4 linked regions of the Homo sapiens genome follow. The protein of the gene in region 3 purifies or fractionates together with the protein of the main gene of each other region. This does not show direct contact. Each region holds a gene or a part of one and is shown on either strand. Other genes may lie near its edges.

The links.
Region 1: the proteins of ARMC10 (region 3) and PPP1R9A purify together in Homo sapiens (affinity purification with mass spectrometry; one large-scale study listed by BioGRID and IntAct). This does not show direct contact.
Region 2: the proteins of ARMC10 (region 3) and FBXL16 purify together in Homo sapiens (co-immunoprecipitation; one large-scale study listed by IntAct). This does not show direct contact.
Region 4: the proteins of ARMC10 (region 3) and VSIG1 purify together in Homo sapiens (co-immunoprecipitation; one large-scale study listed by IntAct). This does not show direct contact.

Annotation. Positions count from the first base shown.
Region 1 is NC_000007.14:95,271,090-95,274,594, reverse strand, and holds part of PPP1R9A (neurabin-1), read right to left. Parts: intron 697-3,505; coding exon 609-696; intron 511-608; coding exon 427-510; intron 1-426. UniProt on the Homo sapiens protein: Binds to actin filaments (F-actin) and shows cross-linking activity. Binds along the sides of the F-actin. May be involved in neurite formation. Inhibits protein phosphatase 1-alpha activity.
Region 2 is NC_000016.10:695,801-699,305, reverse strand, and holds part of FBXL16 (F-box/LRR-repeat protein 16), read left to right. Parts: intron 1-1,886; 5' UTR 1,887-1,900; coding exon 1,901-2,533; intron 2,534-3,382; coding exon 3,383-3,505. UniProt on the Homo sapiens protein: Substrate-recognition component of the SCF (SKP1-CUL1-F-box protein)-type E3 ubiquitin ligase complex.
Region 3 is NC_000007.14:103,095,640-103,099,144, forward strand, and holds part of ARMC10 (armadillo repeat-containing protein 10), read left to right. Parts: intron 1-1,637; coding exon 1,638-1,709; intron 1,710-2,659; coding exon 2,660-2,914; 3' UTR 2,915-3,505. UniProt on the Homo sapiens protein: May play a role in cell survival and cell growth. May suppress the transcriptional activity of p53/TP53.
Region 4 is NC_000023.11:108,051,561-108,055,065, forward strand, and holds part of VSIG1 (V-set and immunoglobulin domain-containing protein 1 isoform 2 precursor), read left to right. Parts: intron 1-3,505.

The DNA.
Region 1 (3,505 bases), 7.8 Mb from region 3:
GTGGACAAGACAATCTTGAATGTCAACAAGGTACTTAAATGCAAAATGATTATCCTTTTAGACTTAATACAATGCACTAGCATTGTGGGTAGCCAGGCAAAAAATCTGAAGTATCACATAAATATATTTGATATTTCTGAAGTATCACATAGATATATTTGTGCTGAATTTAGATAAACACTTATTGAAATGGTTCATGTGGCCATAATTCTGCAATTAAGAACCAATGGATATGCCCAAGGCTAGATGGAGGCTATAATTGGAGTAAGACCAATATAAACTAATTGTGCAATTTTTCTTCCATCTCAATTCTTGGCATATCACTTTAGCTCAAAGATACTGACCACTGATTTTGGTTAACAATAGAAGAGGGGGCCAGAAAGTTTAGGTATAGAAATACACGTGTTCTTAATCACACAACCGTACCTGCTACCTGCAGAAAACCTACTGGCTTCTTTTTCTTTTTCTTTCCACTTCTTTCCCTTGCTGGAATTCCTTCGCAAAGGCGCCCTGTAATGATAGTAAGCAGTCAGAAAGGGGAAGCTGAAATTTTCTCTTTCAATCCTCCTTTTACAGAGGGCTTTCTTTTTACATCGTGAAGTGCTTACCCCAGATCCACAAACTTCCGCTTAATTTTTCCTCCTTGCACCGCCAATGAACTGGATGCCCTTAGTGATTTGGGATCTTTGGCATCATCTAGGATATACACATTTGTGAAAAAGATCAATTATTATTATTTTTAAAGTCACAATTCAAAAGTCAATGCATCTCTGAATCTAAGGGCTTTGCCTAAATTCCTAATTGTAAAATAAATAATCAATGCCTTCTTATACGACCTAGGAGACACAGTTACATTGAGGAACTCGCAGTTAAGCAGGGGAGGTCCTCTATAGGACAGAGGCTCAACATTCATCACAAAGAGTTTTAGCTTCAACTGCATGGGAATGAACAAGGGAGAATAAATACTCTCAAATCATCCTCTGCATTCGAAGTAGGGACCAACATGACTTTTGTTCCTTCTCTGGCTCCAAATTCTTGGCTTCAAGTGCCTGGGCTCTGTCCTCCATTCCTTTCTTGCCTTGGGGTTGTAGTGCCTTCTAACAGGAACATAGCCCACTTCTCCCGTATCTCCAAAGCCCAGCGCAGAATATCACCTCTGAGAGTCTGGGAGATTTAGGGGGAAAGTCAGAGTCAAAGTTTTCTTCTCTGGCTCTCCTTTGCTAATGGCCTGTGGCCGGTCCTGGAACAGAGGAGGGGAGGACATGGGGGAGACTCCTTAAACAGGGGCTCAGCTACAAAACATTTATATCTTTGAAAGGGCCTTCTTAATAGTTAGGTTACAGCAAAACTTGGCTGGTTCCCCTTAATGTGGAAGATGCCAAAATCTCCTCAGTGTTCAGAGCAGACTGATCTTTGCCTCTAGGACTCTCAAAGGTAGCAGCTGCTGGGGAATGGGGACCCTCGAAATGATACCAAAAGCCAATAGGAAGACAGGCTTTGCAAATGGAGTTCAATGTCAAGGTGGGAACCAATTCCACTGGTGGCACTTGTTCCATCTCGGACAGGCTCTACCCAAACTATTCAGCAGAGGGTACTGATCGGCATCACGTTTCAGCATATCCAATTAGCTCAGATGATTAACAAATGCTGTTTTAAATTTGATGTTTTTTATGTGTGAAACTCTTCCTCCCCAGTTCTTTTTTGGTATCTGTTTTTCTGTCTCTTATCTTTTAAAATGTGTTTTAAATTTCTAGGAACTTTCTAGTATGGAAGGCAAAGAGAATGGCCCTCTTAAAAAAGTGTTCAATTAACTTTGCAGGTTAATGTTGCTCATGATTTTTGTTTACTTCAAGAGAAATTTCTCAACACACATCGACATACACCTTTAAAAAACATGAAGTACACACACAGTTCATGGATAGCAGTCTAGGTTCAAAGCTCTCAAGCAGCACAGGACACTGACAAATACTCCAAATGTTTTTAGCAATGAGCTTTTCATATTTTTAGTTAATGATACTTAGATTACAATAAGCAACTCACTGAAATGTACATAATGAAACACAAGAGTCAGAAATATGTCTGTGTCAAAAATCCACTTCAAGCCTCAAATATTTATTATGCATATTTGCATCATTACTCTTTGGGTAACTGAATTGTCACAGATGTGACACAATCATATAAAAAAATCCATAGACATAGACATGGCACAAACACCTTCTAAGGTGATTTTACTAATGGATTTTATTTTTAAAAGCAAGATTTAAATTTTCTTAATAGAAGCTGAAGAAAAGAAAGTGCCAAATTCTTCCAGATCAATCCTAAAGCAACTCTTAATGGCTAGGACTATGCAAAGTTAAAAGGAGACTGCCTAATTATTTCCTGAATGAGAGGTAGCTGGGAGATGTTACAATGAGCGCTGAGAAGACCAGCTGAGGCAATGTACACGAAAACACTCTGTAACCCATGAGTGTTGCAGTTATTTGGACATCATGCGACTAAAAGCCTGATTCTGCCTATCACAGAGCTTGGTGCTAGGCAACCTTACATCTTTATCTCACACATTTGCCAAAGTGCGTTCCCAGGAACACTGAAATGAATGCTTCCATAGGGCTGAAGATGTTAAGAATAAGGAATAATGTACTTTCCCATTTAAAATCGATTAAATCCATCTTTAATGCACACTAGAACTTCTAGTCTGCATAAAATCCAACATTAGATTGGTATGATTTCAGGAAAAAAGAAACATACATTTTGTTTATTTAGCTCTACGTAAGACTTCTGTTAGGCTTTTTAAAATCTCTCCAATACTACCTTTGTGACCAATTATACATCTGAGCCCCCAGATTGGGTGCCTCAACTTTAAGCTGTGGCAACCTGGTTTTCATTTTCAAATAATAAATGATCTCCTGATGGCCAAATCCTAAGGTCTTGTACTGGACTGCATCTCCTTAATCTCACTGTAATAAGATACTTGACTATCTCTTCCTTTATAATGGGGACTCCCAAATCTACCTGGCAGTCCTGACCTCTCTCTTGCGCTCATGACCTCCTCTGTTAAAAAAATGAGTTAATCCTATTTCCCCCATCATGTTGCTGATTTCCTATTTTCTGTTAATGACAAGACCATATGTTCTGAGGCGTGAAGCCCATGATAGTTTTGCCTCACTTTCTTACCTGTTACCTAGTCAAGGTATGTCTCAAGGGTCCTTGAATCATTCTTTCCTGTCACTGTCTACTGCTCCTCTTTAGAGGGCACCACCTCATAGGGTCTCCTAACTCAGCTTCTCCATACCTGGTGGTGTCTTTTCCTTTTTATTCCTCTGGTCAAACTTCTTGTGGTTTCCTAGTAATATGGCAAGTTATCTAAGATGTTTAACTTCTAAAGCTATATACTTAACCTACTGGCTCACTTTTGTGTGTAACTACTCCACCCTGCATAAGCAAACTGCTACAGCCAGGCTGGGATAGCCTTGTACCTTTAAATCATATGATATGTGCCTGTCTC
Region 2 (3,505 bases), on a different chromosome or scaffold from region 3:
CACTTACAGACTGGAGGCCTGAGGAGGGTGCCCGGGACTGCTCCCACTCCACCCTGTGCGTGGATGTCGCTGGCCTGAAGATAACCTCCGCATGGCCTTCCTCAGCCAGCTCTGCCCGAACTTTGGCTTCACCACTTATCTGGCCATGACCTCGGGCAGGCAGTTTGCCCAGCCTTGGCCTCAGTTTCCTCATCTGTGCAGTGGGTACAGCTATCACAGCATCGTTCTCATTGGGCAGAAGATTAAAGCGACAGCTTGTGTCCAGGGCTAACCATGCTGGCACCACAGCACACCCTGGGAAGATGCCCGCCCTTTCTTTGCATGGATTCTTTTTTCTTTTTCTTTTCTTTTTTTCTTTTTCTTTCTTTCTTTCTTTTTTTTTTTTTTTTTTTGAGACAAAGTCTCACTCTGTTCCCCAGGCTGGAGTACAGTGGTGTGATCTCGGCTCGCTGCAACCTCCGCCTCCTGGATTCAAGTGATTCTCCTGCCTCAGCCTCCCAAGTAGCTGGGATTACAGGAGCCTGCCACCAAGCCCGGCTAATTTTTGTATTTTTAGTAGAGAAGGGGTTTCACCATGTTGGCCAGGTGGTCTCAAACCCCTGACCTTGTAATCCACCCACCTCAGCCTCCCAAAGTGCTAGAATTACAGGCATCAGCCACTGCACCCAGCCCCTTGGGTAGATTCTGAGCCAGGGAAGCTCCTGTGCATGTGGAGGGTGGCTGCAGAGTCAGCACCAGAGCCCCTCCTGAGCGCTGTGCAGTCACCCTGCAGGGGAGGGGCCAGAGGCCACCCCAGACCCTTCCCTTCAGTTCCCCTGGCCTGCCCAGAGGGGTGGGCCTGGTGGGTACCTACAGTGGACGGCACAGCAGAGAGGTCAAGAGAGCAGTCCTGGCCTCACCAGGTCCACCTCCATTTTCTTCTCTGTAAAATGGCCATCATGGTACCTAAGTGCTAAAAAGTGTCGGCGTTTCTTCGCCTCACTGGGCAAACAAAAAGGTTTCCGGTCAGGCACGGTGGCTCATTCCCATAATCCCAGGACTTTGGGAGGCTGAGGCGGGTGGATCACTTGAGGTCAGGAGTTTGAGACCAGCCTGACCAACATGGAGAAACCCCATCTCTACTAAAAATACAAAATTAGCCGGGTGTGGTGGTGGGCGCCCGAATTCCCAGCTACACGGGAGGCTGAGGCAGGAGAATCACTTGAACCTACGAGGCAGAGAGGTTGCGGGGAGCCAAGATCCTGTCTCTGCACTCCAGTCTGCGCTCCAGGCAACAAGAGTGAAACTGTTTCTTTTTTTTTTTTTTGAGACAGAGTCTTGCTCAGTTGCCCAGGCTGGAGTGCAGTGGCGCAATCTCGGCTCACTGCAAGCTCCGCCTCCCGGGTTCACGTCATTCTCCTGCTGCAGCCTCCCAAGTAGCTGGTACTACAGGCGCCTGCCACCATGCCCAGCTAATTTTTTGTATTTTTAGAAGAGATGGTGTTTCACTGTGTTAGCCAGGATGGTCTCGATCTCCTGACCTCATGATCCACCCGCCTCGGCCTCCCAAAGTGCTGGGATTACAGGCATGAGCCACCGCGCCCGGCCGGAACTCTGTTTCAAAAAGAAAAAAAACAAAAGAAAAAGAGGGTGTCCATGGGCAATGAAGGTTGGGCTCAGTGCATACCGTAGGTGCCCAGTGAGTGCTGCCAGTGGCCATGGTTGGCTTCCTGTTGCTGCTCACAGTCTGGGAGGGAGAAGCAGGCACTCCCATCCTCTCTGTCTGGTGGTTCTGGGAGCACCATAGGGACGCCCAAGGAGGGAAGGAGCCCCACTGCACCCGCCCCCAACCCCGGCCTTCCAGACTCAGCAACAGACTCACTCCCCCTCCCGGCCCTCATCCACAGAGCGTGCCAGGAAGATGTCGAGCCCGGGCATCGACGGCGACCCCAAGCCTCCATGCTTGCCTCGAAACGGTCTGGTGAAGCTGCCGGGCCAGCCCAACGGCCTGGGTGCGGCCAGCATCACCAAGGGCACGCCAGCCACCAAGAACCGCCCCTGCCAGCCACCACCCCCACCCACCCTCCCACCACCCAGCCTGGCTGCTCCACTGTCCCGGGCTGCCCTGGCTGGGGGCCCGTGCACCCCGGCAGGTGGACCAGCCTCAGCCTTGGCACCTGGGCACCCAGCGGAGCGGCCGCCGCTGGCCACGGACGAGAAGATCCTCAATGGGCTCTTCTGGTATTTCTCGGCCTGCGAGAAGTGTGTGCTGGCCCAGGTGTGCAAGGCCTGGCGGCGCGTGCTGTACCAGCCCAAGTTCTGGGCAGGCCTCACGCCGGTGCTGCATGCCAAGGAGCTCTACAACGTGCTGCCTGGTGGCGAGAAGGAGTTCGTGAACCTGCAGGGTTTTGCCGCCAGAGGCTTCGAGGGCTTCTGCCTGGTTGGCGTCTCCGACCTGGACATCTGTGAGTTCATTGACAACTATGCGCTCTCCAAGAAGGGTGTCAAAGCCATGAGCCTCAAGCGCTCCACCATCACGGACGCAGGCCTCGAGGTGTGCACCAGGCTCGGGGGGGACAGGGCTGGGGGGCAGGGGCGGGCAGCAGCAACCCTATGGAGGTGGGAGCGGATGGTGGCTTTGGGGTGGGAGGAAAGAAGGACTGACTACAGGGGACCTCGCGCAAAGCGAAAATGTGGGTCCCTTGTTCAAAGACACTCAAGATTTTCAAGATGGCAGCAGCAGGGCAGTGGATTAAATGCAGGGCCCAGGCCCGGTGGCTCAAGCCTGTCATCCCGGCACTATGGGAGGCCGAGGCAGGCCACTCACTTGAGGTTAGGCGTTCATGACCAGCCTGGTCAACATGGTGAAACTCTATTTCTATTAAAAATGCAGAAATTAGCCAGGCCTGGTGGTGGGCACCTGTAGTCCCAGCTACTTGGGAGGACACTGAGGCAGGAGAATCGCTTGAACCCGGGAGGCGGGGGGTACAGTGAGCTGAGATCATGCCACTGCACTCCAGCCTGGGACCTGGGCAACAGAGTAAGGCTCTGTCTCAAAATGATTGAATGAATGAATGAATAAATAAATAAATAAATAAATACAAATGCAGTGTGGGGAGGATGCGAGGGGGAGCTGAGGGGCAGCTGGGAAAGGATCCCCCAGGAGTAGAGGTCAGAGGAGCCGCCTGGCAGCCGGGTCTGGAGTCTAATTGTAACGCTGGTGCCAACGCCCCCAGCACCTGCCCTGGCCAGGCCCTGGGCTCTCGTCCCGATGCCCCGCCTCCTCACACACTGCCAAATGTTTTCAGGGTTCAGCTCCCTGCATGTTTACACCCTACTGCTTCCTCCCTGCGGGCTCCACCCCTTCTCCTGCAATCCTGACCCGGCGCCCGCCCGCCTGCAGGTTATGCTTGAACAGATGCAGGGCGTGGTGCGTCTGGAGCTGTCGGGCTGCAACGACTTCACCGAGGCCGGGCTGTGGTCCAGCCTGAGCGCGCGCATCACCTCGCTGAGCGTGAGTGACTGC
Region 3 (3,505 bases):
ATGGTTTCACATGGCCTTTGTTTTTAAAAGACTTGGAACCAACCCGAATGTCCAACAATGATAGACTGGATTAAGAAAATGTGGCACATATACACCATGGAATACTATGCAGCCATAAAAAATGATGAGTTCATGTCCTTTGTAGGGACATGGACAAAATTGGAAATCATCATTCTCAGTAAACTATCGCAAGAACAAAAAACCAAACACTGTATATTCTCACTCATAGGTGGGAATTGAACAATGAGAACACATGGACACAGGAAGGGGAACATCACACTCTGGGGACTGTTGTGGGGTGGGGGGAGGGGGGAGGGATAGCATTGGGAGATATACCTAATGCTAGATGACGAGTTAGTGGGTGCAGTGCACCAGCATGGCACAAGTATACATATGTAACTAACCTGCACATTGTGCACATGTACCCTAAAACTTAAGAATAATAATTAATAAATTAAAAAGAGGCATTCTATTTGAGTCTTGTTATTACTGACTTTTCAGTTATAAGTGATAAGAATGCTGATATTTTAGCTAGTCACCCATTAGATAACATTTATTTGCTTATTATTTATATCATTGCTGGGCATGGTGGCTCATTGCCTGTAATCCTAGTTACTTTGGGAGGCCAAAGTGAGAGGATTGCTTGAGGCCAGGAGTTCAAGACCAGCTTCAGCAATATAGTGAGACCCCCATCTCAATCAATCAACCGATCTATCAGTTTTTATCACTGTGCTTATTTATATGATTGTAAAACACTTTCACATTAAAAGATAACCTCAAAAATTCATGGTAGCTTACCAAAAGGGGCCATATTGTTATTTATTTAGTCTTGGTAACCAAACAGTTCCAAAATTTTTACTGTTTAAGTAGAAATGAGCTGAGCTTTGAGAGATTTTTTTGTTGTTGTTTTAAAGATTATATTTCTTTATTTCTTTTTTGTCGGGGGTGAAGATGGGGTCTAAGGGTCTCACTATATTGCCCAGGCTGGAGTGCAGTGGCTGTTCACAGGCACAATCATAGCTTACTACATCCTTGAACTTGAACATCCTTGAGATGGGAAGGCTCAAGAGATCCTCCCCCGCTCAGCTTCCCAAGTACCTAGGACTACAGGCCGACACCATCATGCCTGGCCATACTTCACTTACCAGTAATCATAATGAAGATCGTGTATTTAACAGATGTTAAGCTTACCAACTGTTCAGATGTGCATGTGAATTGGGGGTAGATTGTGAAGACATTTGCAATATTCTATCTCCCTGACATTATAATTGGGAAAAATTAGGTTTAAATAACCGTGTGATAGAAAACCTGTATCTCTGTGATAAGTTCTCTAAGAGTGGTACAAGACATTTGCAATATTCTCTCTATCTCCCTAACGATGTAATTGGAAAAATGAGGTTTAAATAACACTGTTCTATGATAGGTTCTCTAAGAGTGCTGCCAAGTGTTATAAGAGTTCAGAATGAGACCTTTAAAGTAGAATGAACGGAGAAGGTTTCCTGGAGTAGAGAGAATTTGAGCCAGGCCTGGAAGCTTAGGCAGGACTTTAACAGGAAGACATGGTGAGAGAACAGCATGCCTGAGAGAGAAAATTCATGCTTGCCAGTCTGAGATAAGCCAGTATCATCTTCTTTCAGGTGCAAGTTTTGAAACTGCTTTTGAATTTGTCTGAAAATCCAGCCATGACAGAAGGACTTCTCCGTGCCCAAGTAAATAGCTTATATATTTATTTTGTAAATATACACATATATACATTTGAACAGACAGACAGATCTGGAAAGATTAAGCCTAAAATGTTAACAGGGATTCTCTCTGAGGAGCAGTATTAAAGGTGGTTTTTTAAATTCATTTTGTATGTGTAAATTTCCTAAATTTTTTGCAATGAGCCTCTTTTACTTTTGAAAAACATTTTTAAAAATTCACCCTAGCAACAATAAATTATAACTTTTTTCTCTACCCAATTTTGGGTACAATTGTGCCATCCCATATTTTATACTTGAACTGTTTGTGTTTACATGTATCTTAGTATCCACTGAAACAGCAGTACTGAGTCCCCAGCATATGCTAGATGAGACACACCAGTGAGCACAGCGTGACATGGTACATGTCCTCACGAAGCTTACAGTCTAGTGGAGAGACAAAAATATATAACAAGTGAACAAGGTAATTAAAAGCTGTGATAAGTGTTCTGAATGCTGGGATAGAATGGAGCTCCACTCCTGTAGAAGAGGAACCATCGTATTCATCTGCTCATCCCTATTCCCCACCCAGCTCTGTGCCCTGTGGTGTATGGGCACTAAATGTTTGATGAAAAAATGAGTTCCCATGAAAACCGTATGATGATCTTAAAAAAGAAAATGGTTGTTTTTCCCAAATAACCACATTCTAAAATTCCAAGGAAATTGTATTTTTCCAGCTGAAACACTCCCTTTTTTCCATTAGTATTACAGCGTGGGGGTACATAAGGTTTTATACATCTAAGTTATGAAATTTTGGGTTTTCTGTGACAAAATTTTTTTAATGTGAGATACATTTTAAATGTGAATTTAAAAATTTTAAAATGTGAGTTATTCAATGTAGTTTTAAAATGTTAAAATATACATGAAAAAGTTTTCATATATTATTAATATAAAATAATACTCATTGTTTCATATTTCAGGTGGATTCATCATTCCTTTCCCTTTATGACAGCCACGTAGCAAAGGAGATTCTTCTTCGAGTACTTACGCTATTTCAGAATATAAAGAACTGCCTCAAAATAGAAGGCCATTTAGCTGTGCAGCCTACTTTCACTGAAGGTTCATTGTTTTTCCTGTTACATGGAGAAGAATGTGCCCAGAAAATAAGAGCTTTAGTTGATCACCATGATGCAGAGGTGAAGGAAAAGGTTGTAACAATAATACCCAAAATCTGATTGGTCATATTTTTCCAAAGAGTAATGCAGTCTGGATATAAACGTATTTTCTGTCTTCCTTATAAGGGGATTCTCCCAGCTGCTAAATTTAAACAGTAAATATCACATTTTGTCATTAACACAGCTATAACTTGCCGTGGTTCTCAGATTTATTTTGGACTATTTTGATGCCAAGTGAATATAAGAGCTTGTACTGAAACCATTTATTTCTTTCTATTTTGCTATTTGCAAATGCTTGTTATCTTCCCTACATGAAGTGGCAGTAACCTTTTTCACATTTAAGCTACCCTTCTACCTTTTGAAGTGATTTGCAGTTACTCATCTGAGACAGCATCAGTATTTGACTAAATCATTGTTTCACAACTGAATAGTCTTGTTCTTTTAGTAGCAACGAAATCCTAAGCTCTTGAGGCCATTCACCTGCCAACCTGACCATACTGCTTTCAAAAGTCTTTTCTCATCAGTAGAATCTATTTTGGTCACTTCTAGTCAATGAAAAATGTAAACTTTTAGGAGAGAATGTTTCTTAGGACTCACCCACTCCATTCAATGTTATATATAAAATAGTGTGATCAATCACAATGTCCATCT
Region 4 (3,505 bases), on a different chromosome or scaffold from region 3:
TCCTAACATAGTAGACAAAATGTTCAATCAAAAATCATCTGTCATACCAAGAATCAAGTAAATCACAACTTGACTGAGAAAAGGCAACTACTGCCAACATTAAGATGAGTTCGATGTTGGAATTATCTGACAAGGATTTCAAAGTAGCCATCATAAAAATGCCTCAACAATCAATTAACATTATCTTAAAACAAATAAAGAAAAAAAAGGAAACTTGCAGAAAAGAAAAAGAAGTTATAAAAATATAAGAAAGAAGGAAATTCTGTCATTTGCTACAGCATGAATGAACCTGGGGGACATTATGCTAAGTGAAGCAAGCCAGACACAGAAAGACAAACACCACATAATCTCACTTATATGTGAGATCTAAAAGAGTTGAACTCAGAATTAGAGTAGAATGGTTACCAGGGACTGTGGCTTGGAGGGAGTGGGAAATGGGGAGAAGTTGACCAAAGGGTACAAAGTTCCAGTTAGACAAGAGGAATAAGTTTTTAAGACCTATTTTGCAGCATGCTCACCATAGTTGATAATAATGTATGTGCATTTCAAAACTGCTAAAAGCATAAGATTTTAGTCTACACATTGGGTACAGTGTACACTGTTCGGGTAATGGGGGCACCAAAATCTCAGAAATCACCACTAATGAACTTATCCACGTAACCAAACATCACCTGTTCCCCAAAAAAGTATTCAAAAAAATAATAGATTTTAAATGTTCCTGCTATGAAAAAAACAAAACGAAACAAAAGATAGGTAGGCCAGATGTGGTGGCTCATGCCTGTAATCCCGCCACTTTGGGAGGCCAAGGAAGGTGGATCACTTGAGCTCAGGATTTCGAGAAGAGCCTGGGCCACGTGGTGAAACCCTATTTCTACCAAAAATACACACACACACACACACACAAAATTAGCTGGGCATGGTGGCATGTGCCTGTGGTCCTAGCTACTCGGGATGCTGAGATGGGAGAATTGCTTAAGCCTGGGAGGCAGAGGTTGCCGTGAGCCGAGATCACACTACTGCACTCCAACCTGGGTGACAGAGTGAGACCCTGTCTGAAAACAAAACAAAACAGAACAAAAAACAAAAAAAAGGATAAATTACGTGAGGTGATGGATATGTTAATTAGCTCGATGTAATTATTCCACAGTGTATGCATATATTAAAATATCACATTGTATCCCATAAATATATGCAATAATTATTTGTTAATTAATTAAAATAAAAATTAAGTTAAAAACAAGAATTTAAAAAATACATACTTTGCAATTATCTACTATTTTTCTAAAGACCCTTACAATCTATAGGCTCTTTCTCAGTTTTCTTTTTTCCCCCTTGGAATTATTTTTTGAATAAAACTGGCTTGTTTGTCCCCTCCCCCCAAAAAACAAATATAAATTATAGAACTGTAAAATAAAATAACAAAAATGAAAAACTGGCTGATGGACTCAATAGAAGAGCAGAGATGACAGAAAATAGAATCCATATCTGGTGAAACTATCCTTCAGGAATTAAGGGGAAATAATTAAATTCTCAGTTGAAGGAAAACAAAAAGATTTGTTGCTAGCAGACATACTGTTAAAAAATAGCTAAAGGGATTTCTTCAAACAGAGAATAAATGATAAAGAGCAATCAGGAAGGATGAAAGGACAACAGAAAGAGCAGAAATGTAAGTACATAAAGTAGACTATCTTTTAACTCATGAGTTCTATAAATCATATTTGATAATTGAAGCAAAATTATAACACCATTTTATACTCTAGACAATGATATTTAAAAGTGGGGAAGGTAAAGGAAACTAAATGGAAGTGAGGTTTATACACTTCAATCAAAGTGGTAAAATATTGATATGAGTAGACTGTTATGACTCACACATGAATGTTGAATACCCAGAGAAACCACTGGGAAAACTCTACAAAGATATATATTTTAAAACACTATGAATAAGTCAAGATGGAATCATAAAAAATGCTCAAGTAACTATCAGAAAAGCAAGAAAAGGGAAACAGAAGAATAAGAACTAAAGGGAACAAACAAAAAACAAATAATAAAATAGCAAACAAGAATAATATATCAATAATTACATTAAATAATTATATTGAATGCGAATACCACTACAGTAGTCCCCTTTTATCTGTGGTTTTACTTTCTGAGGTTTCAGTTACCCATAGTACAGTATAATAAGATATTTTGTGAGAAAGAGTGTGAGTGTGTGAACACAATCACATAATTTTTACTCCAGTACATTGGTATAATTGTTCTATTTATTAGTAGTTATCATTGTTAATCTCTTACTGTGCCTAATTTATAAATTAAACTTTATCATAGGTTTGTGTGTATGGGGGAAAAATATATATAGTATACATAGAGTTCAGTACTATCCATGGTTTCAGGCATCCACTGGGGGTCTTGGAATATATCTCCCTGGAATAAGGGGGAACTACTCTATATGCTATTCACAAGAAACTCACATTAAATTTGATGACATAGGAAGATTGCAAGTAAAAATATAGAAAAAGATGTACCACATAAGTATTAATTTTTCAAAAATCTGGAGAAGCTTCATTAATATCTGATAAAATAGTCTTCAGAGCAAAGAAAGTTAAAAGAGATAAACAGAGACATTACCTAATGATAAATGGATCAATCCAGCAGGAGGATACAATGATCCTTAATGGGTACACACCAAACAACTATGTCTCAAAATTCATGAACAAAAACTGATCAAGCTAAAAGAAGAAAGAGACAAATCCACAATTATAGTTGGGAAATTCAATACCCCCTCTCAGAAATTGATAAATCTACTAGACAGAACATCAGTAAATATAGGGAAGATCTGAAAAAGACAGTCAATTAACAGGATCCAGTTGAATATTTTTACGATTTTATATTGGTTTTTCCATAGTGGTTTTAAATTATATCTCTTTGTATAGAAAACTCCACCCAACAACAGCAGAACACACTTTTTTTTGGCACCTACAGAACATTCACCAAGATAGATAATGTGCTTGGCCGTAAAACAAACCTAAACAAATTTAAAATAATTGAAATCATACAGAGTATATTCTCTGACTACAATGCAATGAAACTAGAAATCTGTAGCAGAAAAGTATCTAAACACGTGGAAATTAAACAACACTGTTCTAAATAATCCGTGGATCAAAGAGGAAATCTCAAAAGGAATTTTTTTAAAAATGCGTAGAACTGAATGCAAATGAAAACACAACATATTGAAATATGTACCATGTAGATAAAGCAATTCTGAGAGAGAAATTTCTAACACTAAATGTTTACATTGGAAATAAAGGAAGGTCTTAAGTCAATAACCTAAATTTCTACATCAAGGATCTAGAAAAGAAGACCAAAATAAACCCAAAGCAAGCAGAAGGAAGGGAATAATAAAGAGCTGAAATCAATGAATTTGAAATAGAAAAACTATAGGGAAAAATTAATAACACAAAAATTTGCTTTTCTGAAAAAAAAATCAGTAAAACTGACAAACTTCTAG